Linked DNA regions of Homo sapiens: region 1 is linked to region 2. A link means that fine-mapping ties the variant in region 2 to the plasma level of a protein whose gene starts in the linked region. Region 2 holds a variant in brackets. A gene starts in the other region. All regions are shown on their reverse strands.

Region 1 (8,334 bases), not on the chromosome of region 2:
ATCTATCTTGAACTTCAAAAGCAGTTGAGGATACTTTTAATATTAGATTAGTTAAGCCATATTTTCCTTTCTTCTAGCCAGCCAGCAATACTTTTTGATGTTCACTGTTAAGTAGTGGGCTGAGACTATCCACCTCTTTTACAAAGGCTAGTAGCCAAGGAAAGGACTGCATTTGAAACAATGATCACAAAGTGAAAGGCTCCTTCTCCCATGACCTTTGAAATAAGAAGGTCACTATCTGAGAAAGGAGGGTCTGTAGCTGTGTCTTGACCTCTTTACTATGATTTGTCACAATGGGGACAACAGCCTTCATATCCTACAAATGATTTCAAGAGAGAGAAAAATGACACCTTATTGACTCTAAGATATGGACAAAGATAGTGTTGCTGTCCATGTTCTTAGGGGATACCCCTTGCTCTCCAGATTGTTTCACATTCCACCAGTGTGACTCAATAGAACAGTATGAGTTTGACCATCTGTTCTTGGCTAACAACAATATTATTTCCTTAGTGTTTACAACTCAGTTATGTACAATAGCTATTTCTTTTTACCTTGACACTCCGCTTAGGACTGCACTTTGCCTCTTTCGAGGCTGTTAGCATGATAACAACCAAATATTGAAAAGTAAAATATGAATACCTGCACCTATTGAAGGCCTGGGGATTTATTTGGTTTCCTTGAATTCCATGATATTCCTGTATACTTGCCCTAGCCAGTGATTTCCAAACTCTGTCCCCTCTTCTTTTTGATTACCATTAGAGCTTGGTTTTTCAAACTATGGCAATAACAGATACAATAGTACTGCTCTAGTTGAGCAAGTTTAGAAAGAAGAACCTGTTCATTATCTCTTTTGCCAGCCACGAAGACATCTCTGATATGAGGCTAGGAAACTTGTGCTAGTAATTTTTTATCACAGAAGCACACTGAAGATGAAAAAGTCTTGCCATCATTATCTATAATAGCTCAGAGAATTTCTAAAGCAGTAGGGGGATCAAGACAGAAGCCAGTGGCGATTCCTCATGTAAGGAAAAGGAAACTGAGGGGCAGAGAAGATTTCTAGATCAAGGTTGTACTGTTTATTAGTGGTAAAGCCAGACTAAGCCCCTGACCTCCCATCTCCCAGTGAAATGATCTTTTGTTGTGGTGGTTCAAAGGTTACTAGGGCTTCTCTTTCTTTACGGCTGTTTCTGGCTAGTTACTCCCTCTGAGTTCAGAGTCAGACAAACACTTCTAAGATTTTGGAAAATCTTAGATTTCAATAAGGAAATAGCAGCTTTACTTCAAAGGAAAAGGCCACAGAGAGCCAACTAAAGTCCATTTCTGCAGGTCACACTTCTCTTAACTCCCCATCCTCCAGATCCATTCCCCAGGAAAGTCAGACTGACAAAGTGTGTCTTCTTCTAGAGCAGAGCCTTAGCAAAACCCTCTACCCTCAGCCTCAGCAGGTAAACCCTTCTCAGATTAGCAGCTGATACACTGGGGAGGTAAAAGTTACCTGATGCTAGAAGAATAAAATGTAATGAAAAGTGTCTCATTTCTTGGTTGGAAAAACAGAGTATTGATATATATCTTCATAACCTAGAGATAGCAAGGTCGTATTTCTCAAGATGAGGTAGTGGGAAAAGTGGAAAGAGAAGAGGATGACTCTAAGACAGACTACTGACTTCATTTATTTATTTATTTCTTTTTTTCCTAACACAGTCTTTATTCCTGCTGTGGTCTGTGGACGTTTACTTTGACTACTAATGATATCTCCAGTCCTGCCATATATATATATATATATATATATATATATATATATATATATATATATATATATATTTGTTACTTGTCAGCCATTCTCAATACACAATGAGTATTTAGGTAGAAGAAAGCTTTCTGAACTTCAGGAAATCATGCTCAATTATCTGCCACTAAAATACTGAAATGTTCCAGGAAAAGTCTTAAAATAACTTTGCACATATGCCTCTGTGTGTGTGTGCATGCACGTGTGTGTGTGTGTTAGGATCAAAACAGAAAAATAAAGAGCAAGAAAACGTAGATTTTTTTTTTTGGTGGCAAAAATATGTCCCCATGGTTCCCGCCCCTTTGAGTGTTAAGTGGCTAGCTAAAGGAGTAGGTTGCTTTAAAATCTTATTTCACTTAAAAACATTTAGTAGTGACACCCCCTCCCCCAAATTATCATTGTTAACCACCAAGTGTATTCTTTAGTAAGAATTTGTGGTAATACTCTTCATGCATGCAGCAGCAATGGGCACTCCTTCTTAAGGTTTAAGAAAACATGAAAACCACAAAGAATGTCTGAAATTATTTTCTCTTGGTTGGCGGAACAGATGCCTTTCATCAAGGAAAATGCCTTTGGCCAAAACAAAGCCATATTCATTTAAAATATATTGTTTAGTAATTGCACAGACTCTGGATTATATAAAATTTACTTTCAATGCAAAGATTTCATTTTTCTAGAAAAGGTTAACAAGCAAAATAGAGCAGGAAGACAGGCAGAGGATAATGTGTTAAAAGAATCAACTACGTCAAGGGCAAGAGCAGTTCAAGAAATGACAATGCAAGTACATTGAAAGGAAATTGGCCAATGTGGATGTGATTTTGTCTAGGGGTCATTCAGGAACACCTGGCTGACTTTATTTATAAGGCGATTGTCAAATCAATCTGTAGAATATGGATGAGGTGAAACGCAGAGGTAGAGTATTATTCTAGATCATCTGTAACTTTTCAAATACAACTATCGCACTGAAATTCCAGGGAGAATGTAAGTGACTCCAATAAAGAAACCTGTCAGTCAGTCAAGAGTGTTTATTTATTATCCCCCTGTGCCAAGCAATATTCTAGCCAATATGAAATGATACAAAATAAAGAGTAGTCATCACCCTTCCAATCTCCTGAGAGCAAATGGATTACATTTGCAGACACACACACACACACACACACACACACACACACACACACCCCACCTCTATGTGGGTGGTCAGGAAACTCAACTATATGGACATATAACAATTTCATTTAGAAAAGTGCTGATTAGAAAACTAAACTTACAAAATTAGAAAAACTGGAGAATAATGAATTTTATGAAAAATAGATTACAATGGATTCATAAGGCATGCCCTTTATTTAAGTCCCATTATGTTATTAAAATTGGGAATAACCCTTCACCCTCACAAATTTACAAAATATTTTTGGAACACATTATGCAAATATGGAGTCACACTGGTGTTGTGGAGCTGCTAACTCGAATAAAATACCATACTTGATAAAAAACCTTCTGTCCACTAAACTGTAAATGCCTTAAAGTCAAAGATCAGGCCTTATTTGCCTTTAGTGTATATTTAGTACTCTGTAGATAGAAGTGGTAAAGGGATAAGAATGAATGAATGAGACAGGCGGGTGAAATTTTCAAGAATGAGACAGATGGGTGAAGTTTTCAAAGGTTTCTAAAAGGGAAAAACAAGAAGACTAGGATATTCCAAGCAGAAAGGTCTGGTTGGTTGGCCCCAGTTGGTGTTCGCATATAAGAAGAGGGCTTGGCATTTTCCTCACCACTGAAGAAGGATCAGCCCCTGGTTTGGTCCAGTAAGAATATGTTCTTGCCCAAATGCCACTCCTTAGTTTCAGGGACATTGCTATTTTGGTTTTCTGTTCCAGCCCAAGTGTTCTTGATGGTCGAATTGTTTGCATTGACTTTTTTTCCACAAGAAGTTGGGTGATATTGCTGATTTGCCTGCCATGGCACTTCCTTGTTTTCATTTTGATTATTACTCAAAAATAGCTTCATTTTAAAATTCAACTTTTCTGACTCTCTGCTTGTGCCTTTAACACATTGACAATGATTTTCTGCTTCTCCACAAAGAAAGCACGTTGGATCCTGTCACAGACATATTTAGCAGACATGGAACCACCATAAGCCCTGCTTGGCATGTGTGTTTCATTTCAGACTACCTCATGAGAACTTTAGGTCTTAAAGCATCGGCCTCTCTCTCCAAGTCAGCCTGAACACAAGCCACAAGAGATTTCAGTTCTTTCTCGACCTTTTTGGTGTAAATGTAAACAATTCTATCACCAGGGGTTCAGGGCAGCCTAGTTTTGTTAGAGGCTGTATTGTAGGAAAGTCCAAGGTTGCAGGATCATTCTGAGTCCCTTAGACACCATTCTCAGAAGAGCTTGCTATTAGCTTAATGCTGCCCAACTACTACGTATGCTTCACGAGGGCAGGGACTTTTGTCTGTTTTCACTGCTACGGCTCCAACCTCTAAACAGTGCCCGACATAGTAGGCATTCAGTAAATATAGTACTTGTTAAATGGATGTTATTTTGGCTGCCTTTACTTTTGCTTTATTTGTCCTGCTTTACGGAGCTGGAAATTGGAGGAAAGCCTTTGAATTCATTTCCCTTCTTCCTTCTGTTCTGAAACTCTGGCCAAGGGTCCTAGCAAAGACCTTAGGGAGTGGGGAGCCCTCCTGGAAACTAATGACAAGTCAGGCGACAGGGGGCGGGAGAAGGAGAGCTGCAGGAAGTTCTTTCCCACTTACTTCTGCAGCACCCTTCACCACCCATCGTGCTCTGTATTTGGGGTTAGAGGTGTTCCGTGGAAGGGAAAGCAGGGGCCGCCTTGGCCGCGTTCCTCTCCTGGGCCACCGGGGTCTTGCCCACAGCGAGTCCCGCAGCACCCCCTGTCTGCGCAGCACCTGTTGACAGCCAGTGGGCGGCCAAGCCCGCTCGCGCGGACGCGTCCCAGGGCTGCCCCTCCCAGAGGCGCTGACCCCCGCCCGCCCCATCGGCCGCCTGCGGGAGAGCCGCTGAGCCGCCCCCGCTCGCCAGGCGCGCGCTCCGCCCGGGCTCGGCCCACGGCCCCCACCTCCTGTCTGCCGCCCGGCGGGGGGAAGGTAGAGAAGGGGAGGGGACAAGCCGGATCCTCCCGGCCGCCCCGGCCTTCCCTCTTCACCCCGTGCGGAGACGCCGCGCGTAGCCCCGAGGTTAGCGCGGAGCCCGAGGCGTGGGGGGAGGGGACGGGGAACAACCGGAGCCCCGCGGTGACCCCGAGCGGCCGAATTGCCCCAGGCTTTGAGGAGCGGGGGACGAGCCCGAACAAGGTGAACTTTGGTCGCGGAAAACTCAAGCCAGGTGCCGGAATCCGTGCTGCGGCGCTCCGAACCCGGGGCCAACTGCGCTCCGGGCTGAGGAGCGGGAGCCCCGCGGCCTCTCTCCGCCTGCGCCCGGGCCGCCGTCGGCCCGGAGCCCCCCGGCCCCGCTCCGGCGCCCCGGCCCGTGGGACCCGCCGCGGCGCCCTCGCCTTGTTTCTTCCCCCTCCCCCTTCGGGGGTGGGGGGTGGGGCGGGGGAGAGGGGCGCCCGGAGAGCCGCATCTATTGGCAGCTTTGTTATTGATCAGAAACTGCTCGCCGCCGACTTGGCTTCCAGTCTGGCTGCGGGCAACCCTTGAGTTTTCGCCTCTGTCCTGTCCCCCGAACTGACAGGTGCTCCCAGCAACTTGCTGGGGACTTCTCGCCGCTCCCCCGCGTCCCCACCCCCTCATTCCTCCCTCGCCTTCACCCCCACCCCCACCACTTCGCCACAGCTCAGGATTTGTTTAAACCTTGGGAAACTGGTTCAGGTCCAGGTTTTGCTTTGATCCTTTTCAAAAACTGGAGACACAGAAGAGGGCTCTAGGAAAAAGTTTTGGATGGGATTATGTGGAAACTACCCTGCGATTCTCTGCTGCCAGAGCAGGCTCGGCGCTTCCACCCCAGTGCAGCCTTCCCCTGGCGGTGGTGAAAGAGACTCGGGAGTCGCTGCTTCCAAAGTGCCCGCCGTGAGTGAGCTCTCACCCCAGTCAGCCAAATGAGCCTCTTCGGGCTTCTCCTGCTGACATCTGCCCTGGCCGGCCAGAGACAGGGGACTCAGGCGGAATCCAACCTGAGTAGTAAATTCCAGTTTTCCAGCAACAAGGAACAGAACGGTGAGTCTTTCCCCCATTCTCCCCCTGCTTGTTTCTCGCTGTGTGTGTTAACGTTGGCATTGTGCGTTGGTATGTGATATATACCAGACTGTGAAGGTATCTTTGGTCTCTCATTACATGCAAATGTGCGCTGCGTTCATTGGCATGGACTGTTAAAGGTTAAGTGTAGTTTGCAACTTCGGGAGCTGCCACAAAGCTCCAAGAGGGCAACGTGAGTGCCACTGCTGAGTGAGGACATTCTGGGAGCGATTGTGAACGTCATTTCAAATGCACATTGCAGGTTCGCTCATTGCTAAAGTTAGAAGTTCAAGAACTGCCTCTAAAAACGAATCCAAAATGAATGAGCCTTGGCATGTTTGACTTTACTCAGATTTGGGGAGGGCGAGGGGGGTCGGTCAGGAAATATATCAGCCGCATTAATTGAAGCACTCTAGGTCGAAGTCATCAATTAATCAATGAGTAGATAGGAAATATAGAGGTCAAGAGGCTGTGTGGTCGTTTTTAGAGGAATTAAAAAGTGTATTTCTCTTGCTCCCTAGTTTTTGTTTTTTAAACTTGCCTTTGTACTCTGAAGTCCTTACCTTTCTGGTGGTGTGTTTTTGTATGTGTTGGTGAATGACTGCTATTTTGTGTGTGCTGGAAACGACTTAATCCTGCATAGGAAATGAGAATTACTTTCAGCTTTCAAGTGTACCTGAAATGTTTAGAAAACTCTCAGATGCAAGTTCCCTTGGGCTGGGATTGCACAGAGCTGGAGAAAGGCTCCTTTCATAAAGCCAGGGCAGCTTCAGGGTGTGTAATTTGCTTAGCCTCTGAACCCATATGATTTACATCATTCAATTTCTAAACTCTTTTTCTCTTCATCTACCATTATGAAGTCATTTTTGAGAATACTTTGTAAATAGAAATTTTATACTGCACATGAAACCACAATGTTCATGTTAGGCTGTCTAAAATTGGAATATTTAACGCCCTGTTTACAAATGGTGGCTCTTACTGTAATTTGAAAAGGAATATACATGTTTTTACTGCTTTGTATATCATCTATTCAGAATGCAAGGATTCTGTCACTTGATTAACCATGCAAAATGAACACAAGTGGCATACCTACAAAATTAAGATAGGATGTGCTATAGTTTTAAGTCAGAGTGATTTTTTTTCCTTTTCATATTGGGGTGTTTCAAGACTTCAACTTTGAATTTAAACTCTATGAAGTGTTCATGTTTAAGAAAGCACAGAAAGTTTTAGGGTATAAAAGTAGATAAAATAAGGATTCTGCCGACTTTTGCAAACGTTATTTGTATTTGCTGTTGCGCAGCAAGACATAGTATCACATTTATCAGCTAATATTAGTGTGGTGCTTCTTACAACTTGCTAATGTGATGCCACATGGCACCTGCAGGCTCCTTGAGCTGCTGATCAAAGGGCAGCCTAGGGATGTATCTCTAATCACAGTAGCTGCAGAGGTCTGGGGGAAAGTGATCAAAGGAGCCACAGCACCAGCTGTACCCGTGCAGGAAACACATCAGACCAACCTTTGTTCTTTCTCATGTAAAATAAATGTCCAGTTCAAAATATTGCTTCTTACTAGCCAAGCTCCTCCATAATGACAACAATGCACAATATTCCTGGCTTCCTGGCTTCTGTTTTTTATTGTTCCTGTCCCATATCATTTCTCCTATTGCCTTGTCTTATCAAGCCTCTCTTGGCATCTGCCCGAATCTCTTTGCTGACCTGTGCTTCTCTTTGTCCTTTCCTTTTAGTTCTCTCTTGTGATCCCCATGCTATCATCACTTTGTAAGGGTCCCAGAGCTGTCATGCAGCATGTGGTCATAGGCCACTTTACCCAAGTAGATTCACACCTCCAGGAGAGATGAGTTCATTAAGCCAGGCCACACACATTCTGTTGCCATCTGAGGCTGGGCCATTTCCATTCCTAAGATGCATGATGCTAAAAATTGCTGCTTGTTTCCTAATCTGTGGGTAGAGGATTAGGCTATGTTTGGGGGTTGGTCTATGTTAAGGATGGCAGCAGGAAGTAACTAGAAGTAGAGGAACTACTTGTAGTTTTTAGCCCAAGGAGAAGTGGCACTGGCCAGCACTAGGGGGCAATATAGAGCTATTTTCTTGCACATGCTCAGGTTGATTTTTATACGTAAATGTTTCAAGATTTGAGGGTAACAGGTGGGTGCTGAAGAAGATTCCCCTGGAATGTAACCAGATTTGTTAGAGCTACTACCATTACCGTTACTACTACTACTTCTACTTCTTCTTCTTTTTGTCTTTCAAATTTTCCATTATGTGGGTAATCTTTTGCCCACATACTGAATTATGATTGAATTTTGATTGCCCTGTTGCTGTCTCA
Region 2 (8,334 bases):
GCCATGGACAAGGTGGGCACTGTCCAATCCCTTGCGTTTACCTTTTTCCAATCGGTGTACACGACATCTGACTTGGGAATGCGCAAGCAGTCGAGAGCTTCGTAGAACTCTCCCAGTTGCTCCTTGGTCGTCTCTGGCTTGTCAGCTGCAGGGGGAGCAAGGAGACTGACTGGGGACATGGTGGGGCCCGGCGGGAGGCCAGGGAGGGCTGGGGTTCTAGGGGCCAGCCCAGGGGTGGGTGAATGGGGGGTGAGGCCTGAGAGGGGCATGAGTTTGGGGCTGCTAAGCATGCCTACCATAGACAGACAGCCCCCAGTTCTTCTCATCGTTCACGTCAAAAGCAAGCATGTAGGTCTTGGTGTCCCTGAGGATCAGCAAGTGAGCGAAATGCTCTTGGCCTCCCACTGGAAGAGAAAAGGAGCCTCTGGGTGAGAACATGGGATGGCACAATGGTGTCTGTCTTACAGGTGAGGAGGCCTAGGTGTGTCAGTGGCCACACAGCCCATCAGTGAAGGCCCAGGGCTCCTTTGGGCCACCGTGTGCCCAGCCCCTGCTGCATGCCCAGCTCCACGCCAAGCACTTTCTGTACATGAGATCTCAGGAGCCTCACACAGACCGTGGCTGTCAGGGCCTTTCTCCGTTTTACAGATGAGGAAAATGAGGCCCAGAGAGGAGGCTCGGGATGCTAAATGGTGTCAGTTCAGCTCCATCAGCTCCCTGCCATGTGCCACCTCTGCGGTGATGGGGGACATAGTTGAAGGTACCACCTCTCCAACATACAGGCTTCTACCATTGGTTTGCAAAGGATCTTAAAGAGGGCATGAGAGAGAGGCAGATCTGAAGCCAGCCTGGAGTTCCAATTCTAGTTCTAATTATAAGCTGTGTGACCTTGGGGAAACTATTTGAGGTCTCTGTTCTTCTTTTTCCTCCTCTAATTCTCTCAGTGTCCTCTTAGAGTTGTTTCTGAGCACATCGTTAGAGCTCAAAAATGTTAGTGGTTATTTCTCTGTGCCCAAAGCCTCCAGGGCTCTACATCCAGCCCCCACCTTATGCTGGCCTGCCCTGTTCCCACAGTGAACCCTCCTGCCTGAGGGCTGGCCCTCACCGTATCTGGAGATGGTCCCATTTTCCCGCTGGACATTCAGGTAGGTGGTGTTATAGATGCACTGGTCCTGTCTAAAGCCAAACAGAAGGCGGAAGGAAAACAGGAAGATTATTGAGAAGTGGCCAATCGCCCATCACAGTCCTGGGGCAAGAGTCTGGTGGAGATTAAAGCCAGCCCTCCCGGTTCCACCCATGGGAAGGCCAAGGCCAGGAAGAAGGAGGGACTTGCTCAGGTCTTCTGGCCAGAAGCTGAGATGGGGGTGCATTGGAATGGGGGCTCTCACCGGGTCTGGTACTCTCTGAGAAAGATCGTGTCCTCTGTCTTGTTGGGGGTGAAGTAAAAGAAGGTTGCTTGGATCTCCTGAACCGACTTATTGTACTCCTCGTTTCGAAAGGCCGATGCGATATAAAACCACTTGCCAGTGATCTGGGGAGAAGGTGGGAGCTGGTGATGGGGGCTTGATGCTGAATCTTTGACTGTCAGCTGGGAGGAGACTCAGGCAGATCTCTCCCTGATTTTGCAGATGGGGAGATGAGGCCCCTGGTGGGCAGTGCGCATGCAGGAGCTCACCCTGAGGATCAGTCATTGCCCCCCAGGCAGCCCCTCCAGGCCCAGCACAGAACCGTCCTCCGTGAAGGACTCTGCAGTGAGGCTTCTGTGTTTGGAGGCAGGGGGTGCCTCCAGAGTCCCCTGGGCTGGTGAGAATTTCACCCTGGGGACCCAGAAGAGAAAAAGGCAGAGCCGGGAGTGGGGGTCCGACCACAGCCAGCAGGGAAAGGGAAGCCCAGAGAAGGGAGGCAGCTGCCCATGTGCTCAGGACAGGGCTAGCCCAGGCACTCACCCGGTCCAGGGTGGCGTTGGTGATGGGCACCGGTACTAGGTTGGCACACAATGGGATCTGGGCTTCCAGCAGAGGTAGGAGGCTCAGGACTGTAAGAACCCAGGACAGCGCCATACTGAGACCAGGAGGCACGTGGAGCCAGGCAGTGCTGGTGGCTGCAGGGTGCAGTCACCTTTATAATAAACTATGGGCGGTCACTTGGAGCCCAGCAAAAGTTTACTCTGTGTCTGTGACACAATCCTGCCAGCACTTGGGAAATGCCTCGCACAAAACCTCCCCCAAAGGCCAGCTCGGAGCACCGCCTCCAAACCCAGGTCTAATTTGAGTTCCTCACATGGAGAGGTTACAAAAGCCCTAGAGTATGGCTGCCCAAGGCCAAGGTGGGTGCGGGGCTGCAGCAACATTAGTAAACGTGTGAGTCCACAGATTTCCTAGAGAGGCCTCCCGCAGAGGAATCTCATGTCTTCATTCAATTCCTATCCCTCTGAGTGCCAAGACTTACTTCAGTGGGACCCAGCCACAAACCTAATGATGAAGCCACCTTTGAGGGTCCCCAGGCTGGCATGGGATGTATGTTGTGGCGGGGAGAGTTGGGGTGAAGGATGCCGGGGAAGACAAACATAGATTCAGTTCCACTGAGTGTGGCAACAGCTGTGTCAGAGCCAAAGTTCATTGGGGCCCCAACCCAGCCCTGGACGCAGGCACATTTCCAAAAAGGGACATCCAAGTTGAATGTCTATTTCCAGTAAATATACTACTCGAAGCATCTCCCAACATCTCAAACAGGAAACTGTCTCCCTGTTTTCCCCCATTCCCTGCCATCTGAGCAGGCAGCTTGCTTCTCTTTCACCAATACGCCCCCAATCCTGGAGCAGTGCCCAGCACTTCAAGGGCACTCGGTATATTCTGTGGAATGAGTGATTCCGTGGCCCATTTGTGTTCCTACCTCACGGGTCAAGTCTTTATTTGTATGAATAAATACTTTCAGAAAGTATTCATTTTTTTTTTTTTTTGATACGGAGTTTCACTCCCGTCCCCCAGGCTGGAGTGCAATGGCTCAATCTCGGCTCACTGCAACCTGTGCCTCCTGGGTTCAAGCGATTCTCCTGCCTCAGCCTCCTGAGTCGCTGGGATTACTGGTGCCCTCCACAACGCCCAGCTAATTTTTTTTGTTGTTGTTATTTTCAGTAGAGATGGGGTTTCTCCATGTTGGCCAGGCTGGTCTGGAACTCCCGACCTCAGGTGACTCACCCGTCTCGGCCTCCCAAAGTGCTGGGATTACTCAGAAAGTATTCTTACGGTATGATTATAATTTTGCATTCTTATTCATTTCATTCTGAATAACTTTCATATTTCAGTGTAGTTTGTAGTTAAAAGCTTAATGGACCCAAGATGGGAGAGTCACCTGAGTCCTGGAGTTCAAGACTAGCCTGGGCAACATAGTGAGACCCTATCTTTACACAAAAATATTTAAAAATTAGCCAGGTCGGCCAGGCGCGGTGGCTCACGCCTGTAATCCCAGCACTTTGGGAGGCTGAGGCGGGCGGATCATGAGGTCAAGAGATGGAGACCATCCTGGCTAACATGGTGAAACCCCATCTCTACTAAAAATACAAAAACAAAATTAGCTGGGCGTGGTGGCAGGCGCCTGTAGTCCCAGCTACTTGGGAGGCTGAGATGGGAGAATGGCGTGAACCTGGGAGGCAGAGCTTGCAGTGAGCTGA[G/T]ATGGCGCCACTGCACTCCAGCCTGGGTGACAGAGTGAGACTCCGTCTCAAGGAAAACAAACAAACAAACAAAAAAATTAGCCAGGTCTGGTGCCATGTACCTGAAAGCCTAGCTACTCTGGACTCTGAGGCTGGAAGATTGCTTGAGCCCAGGAGTTCAAAGCTGCAGTAAGCTGTGATTTTGCCACTACACTCCAGCCTGTATGATGGAGCAAGAGACCCTGTCTCAAAAATAAATAAATAAATAAATAAATAAAAGTGTAATGGATGCACAACTTTTCATTCACTTACTCTATTCTTTTTTTGTTTTTGTTTTTGTTCTGAAATGGCATCTCACTCTGTCGCCCAGGCTGGAGTGTAGTGGTGGGATCTTGGCTCACTGCAACCTCTGCCACCCAGGCTCAAGAGATCCTCCCAGCTCAGCCTCCCGAGTAGCTAGGACCACAGGTGCGTGCCACCACACCTGGCTAACTTTTTGTACTTTTGTAGAGATGGGGGTCTCATCATGTTGCCCAGGTTGGTCTCGAACTCCTGAGCTTAAGCAATCTGCCCACCTCGGCCTCCCAGAGTACTGGGATTACAGGCATGAGCCACGGCGCCTGGCCCGCTTACTATATTCTAACCTACTTAGTCATGTCCTTTATGTCTACAGCACTTTTTTTTTTTTTTCAGGCTCTTCAAGTTGGAGTGCAGTGGTATGAATCATAGCTCAACTGCAGCCTCAAACTCCTGGGCTCAAGCAATCCTCCCACCTCAGCCTCTGGAGTAGCTAGGACTACAGGCATGCACCACCACACTTGGCTAATTAAATTTAAAAAACAAAAAATTGTAGAGACAGAGTCTCACTATGTTGCCCAGACTGGTCTTGAACTTCTGGCCTCAAGTGATCCTCCTGCCTCAGCCTCCCAAAGTGCTGGATTATAGGCGTGAGCCACCACTCCCAGCCTATCTAACAGCATTTCATATTGTGATTTTTCCTCTGATGATAAGTGTCAGAGAGCAGCCAATTTCCCTTTTAAAATTACCTTAGTATCCAAGGGAAAGGAAACCACGTGCTATGCACAAAGTCTTACATATTAATGTTCATAACAGCATTGCTCAAAATAGCCAAAATTAGAAATAATCCAAGGGTGGGGCACCACGGCTCACGCCTGTAATCCCAGCACTTTGGGAGGCCGAGGTGGGCGGATCACAAGGTCAAGAGATCGAGACAAGCCTGGCCAACATGGAGAAACTCCGTCTCTACTAAAAATACAAAAATTAGCTGAGTGTGGTGGCATGCGCCTGTAGTACCAGCTACTCAGGAGGCTGAGGCAGGAGAATCGCTCAAACCTGGGAGGTGGAGCTTGCAGTTAGCCGAGATCGTGCCACTGCACTCCAGCCTGGTGACAGAGCAAGACTGTCTAAAAAACAAAAACAAAAGCAAAAACAAAAACCAAAAAAAAAGAAAGAAACAATCCAAATGCCCATCAACAGGAAAATGGTAAATAAAAATGTGGCATTTTCTTACAAAGGAATATTACTTAACAATAAAAATAGTTAAACTATTGATACATATAACACCATGGATGAATCTCAAAAACACTATGCTGAACAAAAGAAGCCAGATACAAAGGAGCTTATATACTGTACGGTTCTGTTCTAGAACAGCTCAAACAAATCTATAATTTTAGAAATCAGATCAGTGGTTGCCAAGGGCAAAAGAGGGCAATTTGACTGCAAAAGCATATGAGAGAACACTGAAGTGGATGACAACGATCCAGGTTGTCATCGTGGTGGCCATTATACACACACACGTATAGTTGTAAAAACTAATTGAACAGTAAACCTAAAATGTGTGCATTTTCTTTTATTTATTCAACCTCAAGAAAGCCGATGATTTAAAAACCCTCCTCCCAAACATGACAAATCCAAAAGCACTAAGGATTTTGAATGTCAGTTTGGCAGTGTACAAGTGAGTCTCCTTATCCCCATCCTTGTCAGAACAGAAATGACCCTTTTTTTTTCCTTTCTTTTTTGTGTTTTTGCCAGCTTGGTTTGTTTCTTGAATTTGCATTGCTCTAATTTGAGGCTTGAAACAATGATTGGAGTTATCAAGAGGGAAGAGCGCAGGTGAGAGAGTGGGTGTATCAGGGAGCTGGAAAGTCTGTGCAGCTGGAGCACATGATAAGTGGGAGTGGCCAGACTTTATGTTGAAGAGGTTGGCAGGAGATGGAGCCTGCAGGGCATGGAAGCCAGGCTGAGGGGTTCGCTAGACTTAGGAGGTGTAGGAGAGAAATGGAAAGATTTCAAAGGGGTTGGAAAGGCATAACCAGATTGGTTCTTCAGAAAGATCGCTCTGTCTGAATGGGAAGAATGGGGAGGGCTAGGGAAGGAGATTAAACCTGAGAAACCAGCTGGAGCTGATGCAGTGGTCCAGGGGTGAGATGATGGGGACAGACTCCAGATACCATTCATCTATCTAACATCTATCTATCTATCATCTATCTACCTATCTATCTATCTATCTATCTATCTATCATCTATCTACCTACCTATCATCTATCATCTATCTCTATCTATCTATCTATCTATCTATCTATCTAATCTATCTATCATCTATCTATCATCTATCTATCTATCTATCTATCTATCTATCTATCTATCATCTATCTATCTATCTATCTGAGACAAGGTTTCACTCTGTCGCCCAGGCTGGAGTGCAGTGGCACGATCTCAGTTCACTGCAGCCTCCGCCTCCCGAGTTCCAGCAATTCTCCTATCCAGCCTCCCTAGTAGCTGGGATTACAGGTGTCACTACCACACCTGGCTAATTTCTTTTGTATTTTTGGTACGGACAGGGTTTCGCCATGTTGGCCAGGCTGATCTTGAACTCCTGACCTCAAGTGATCCACCCGCCTCGGCCTTCCAAAGTGCTGGGATTTCAGGTGTAAGCCACCGTGCCCAGCCCAGATACCATGTATTTTGAGGAGAAGCTGAGCATTGTTGGGGACAGCACCACCATTAGACCTGGACTATTGGGGCCCAGGGATTTAGAGAGCCCCACATATCACACCCACCCACACACCCACCCACACACAACAGTTTATTAAATAACAGATAAGCACCTCTGTCCTTTGGGATCTGGTGCCTGGTACTGGCACAGTGGGACCCACATCACTGATTATTCTCTTTCACAACCAACACTGTTTAGGCCCCAGGAAACAATCTCTACATGTGGCACTCGACTCTGAAAACAACAGGTCAAATGTCCTGATACTTCGTGGATGATGCCACCGCAGACATAGGAGACAGACACTGCTTCAAGAGAGGATTTGAGTGAACTTGGAGGTAAGAAAAAAGACAAATTAACATTTTAACTCTTCCCTTTCAGCATAAATGCCAACAAAAAAACTCTTTGTTTTGCCAGAAACACTGAAAGTCTATTTTCTTGCAATGTGTGGTTAGAGAGATCCTCCTGAGTTAGAAATAAACAGTACATGCAACAGTTGCACATGGTTGCTGAGAAACATTTGGCAATATTGCATCATTATTACTCCTAAATGTGTGTGTCTGATGTCTGTAGATGGTGCCCACATACAGCCTGAATCTAGTTCTTTTTCTCTTTATTTTCTTGAGACAGAGTCTGGCTCTGTCACCCAGGTTGGAGTGCAGTGGCACAATCTTGGCTTACTGCAACCTCCATCTCCCAGGTTCAAGAAATTCTCCGGCCTCAGCCTCCTGAATAACTGGGATTACAGGCGCCTGCCACCACACCTGGCTAATTTTTGTATTTTTAGTACAGACGGGGTTTCATCATGTTGGCCAGGCTCGTCTCAAACTCCTGACCTCAAATGATCTGCCTGCCTCGACCTCCCAAAGTGCTGGGATTACAGTTGTGAGTCACTGCATCAGGACAATTGAATCTGGTTCTTGACATGGGCATGTAGAGGCTGCATGCTAGCCTCGTGAATAATTTTCAGTTGTACAAATCTTTTGGACATGATTTAATTAATTAATTAAATTTCTTTTTTTTTTTTTTTCGAGACAGAGTCTCGCTCTGTTGCCCAGGCTGGAGTGCAGTGGCACAATCTCAGCTCACTGCAAGCTCCACCTCCTGGGTTCACGCCATTCTCCTGCCTCAGCCTCCTGAGTAGCTGGGAATACAGGCGCCCGCCACCATGCCCGGCTAATATTTTTTTGTATTTTTTTAGTAGAGACAGGGTTTCACCGGGTTAGCCAGGATGGTCTCGATCTCCTGACCTTGTGATCCACCCGCCTCAGCCTCCCAAAGTGCTGGGATAATTAATTAAATTTCTAAAACTTAAATGTAAACATGTCAGCTTCATTTAAAATACTTTTGATTTATAACGTTCAGGCACTTAGGCCAATGGGGTCTGGGGTCTCCGTCTGCTCGAGTGTAGAGATCCCAGGCGCAGCCTGTGTAGGGGAAGGGTGAATAAGGAGAGCTACCACCATTCAAAGCGGAGCTGTGCACTGTGAATGCAGTACAGAGGCGCTTCCGAGTGCCTCTCCTTGGCAGGAGTAAGTGGTCTTCAGTGTCCTCACTGTCCCTCAGGCTGCCGCTTGGGGGTCTCACTCTCCACCTTAGACTATCCAAGTAATTCCTCCAAGCTCATCTGGCACCTACCCTACCACAGTACAATTTTCTCTGTCTCCTAACA

Alleles and levels. Alleles are on the strand shown, and positions count from the first base shown. The strength of an association depends on the size of the effect and on how common the allele is.
With allele G in place of T in region 2, the plasma level of the protein whose gene starts at base 4,956 in region 1 is higher (strong association).

The links. PIP is the posterior inclusion probability: the model's chance that the variant is causal. Protein levels are from antibody-based Olink assays in UK Biobank. Linkage for the fine-mapping came from a reference panel and not from the study's own genotypes, which makes the PIPs less certain.
Region 1: it holds the start of PDGFC, and the variant in region 2 is fine-mapped to the plasma level of the PDGFC protein (UK Biobank, PIP above 0.99).

What each region holds. Positions count from the first base shown.
Region 1 is chr4:156,968,421-156,976,754 of GRCh38, reverse strand. PDGFC (platelet derived growth factor C) reads left to right here and starts at 4,956. Exons shown (of 6, transcript NM_016205.3): 1 at 4,956-5,969. The coding sequence starts at 5,852. RefSeq lists an enhancer at 4,669-5,169.
Region 2 is chr9:114,316,860-114,325,193 of GRCh38, reverse strand. ORM1 (orosomucoid 1) reads right to left here and starts at 2,096. Exons shown (of 6, transcript NM_000607.4): 1 at 1,947-2,096; 2 at 1,389-1,531; 3 at 1,106-1,176; 4 at 297-404; 5 at 42-145. The coding sequence starts at 2,060. It overlaps LOC105376224 (a long non-coding RNA gene), which reads left to right and starts at 6,751. Exons shown (of 3, transcript XR_930255.3): 1 at 6,751-7,000. RefSeq lists an enhancer at 7,031-7,325. The variant G/T (reference allele first, on the strand shown) is at 3,671.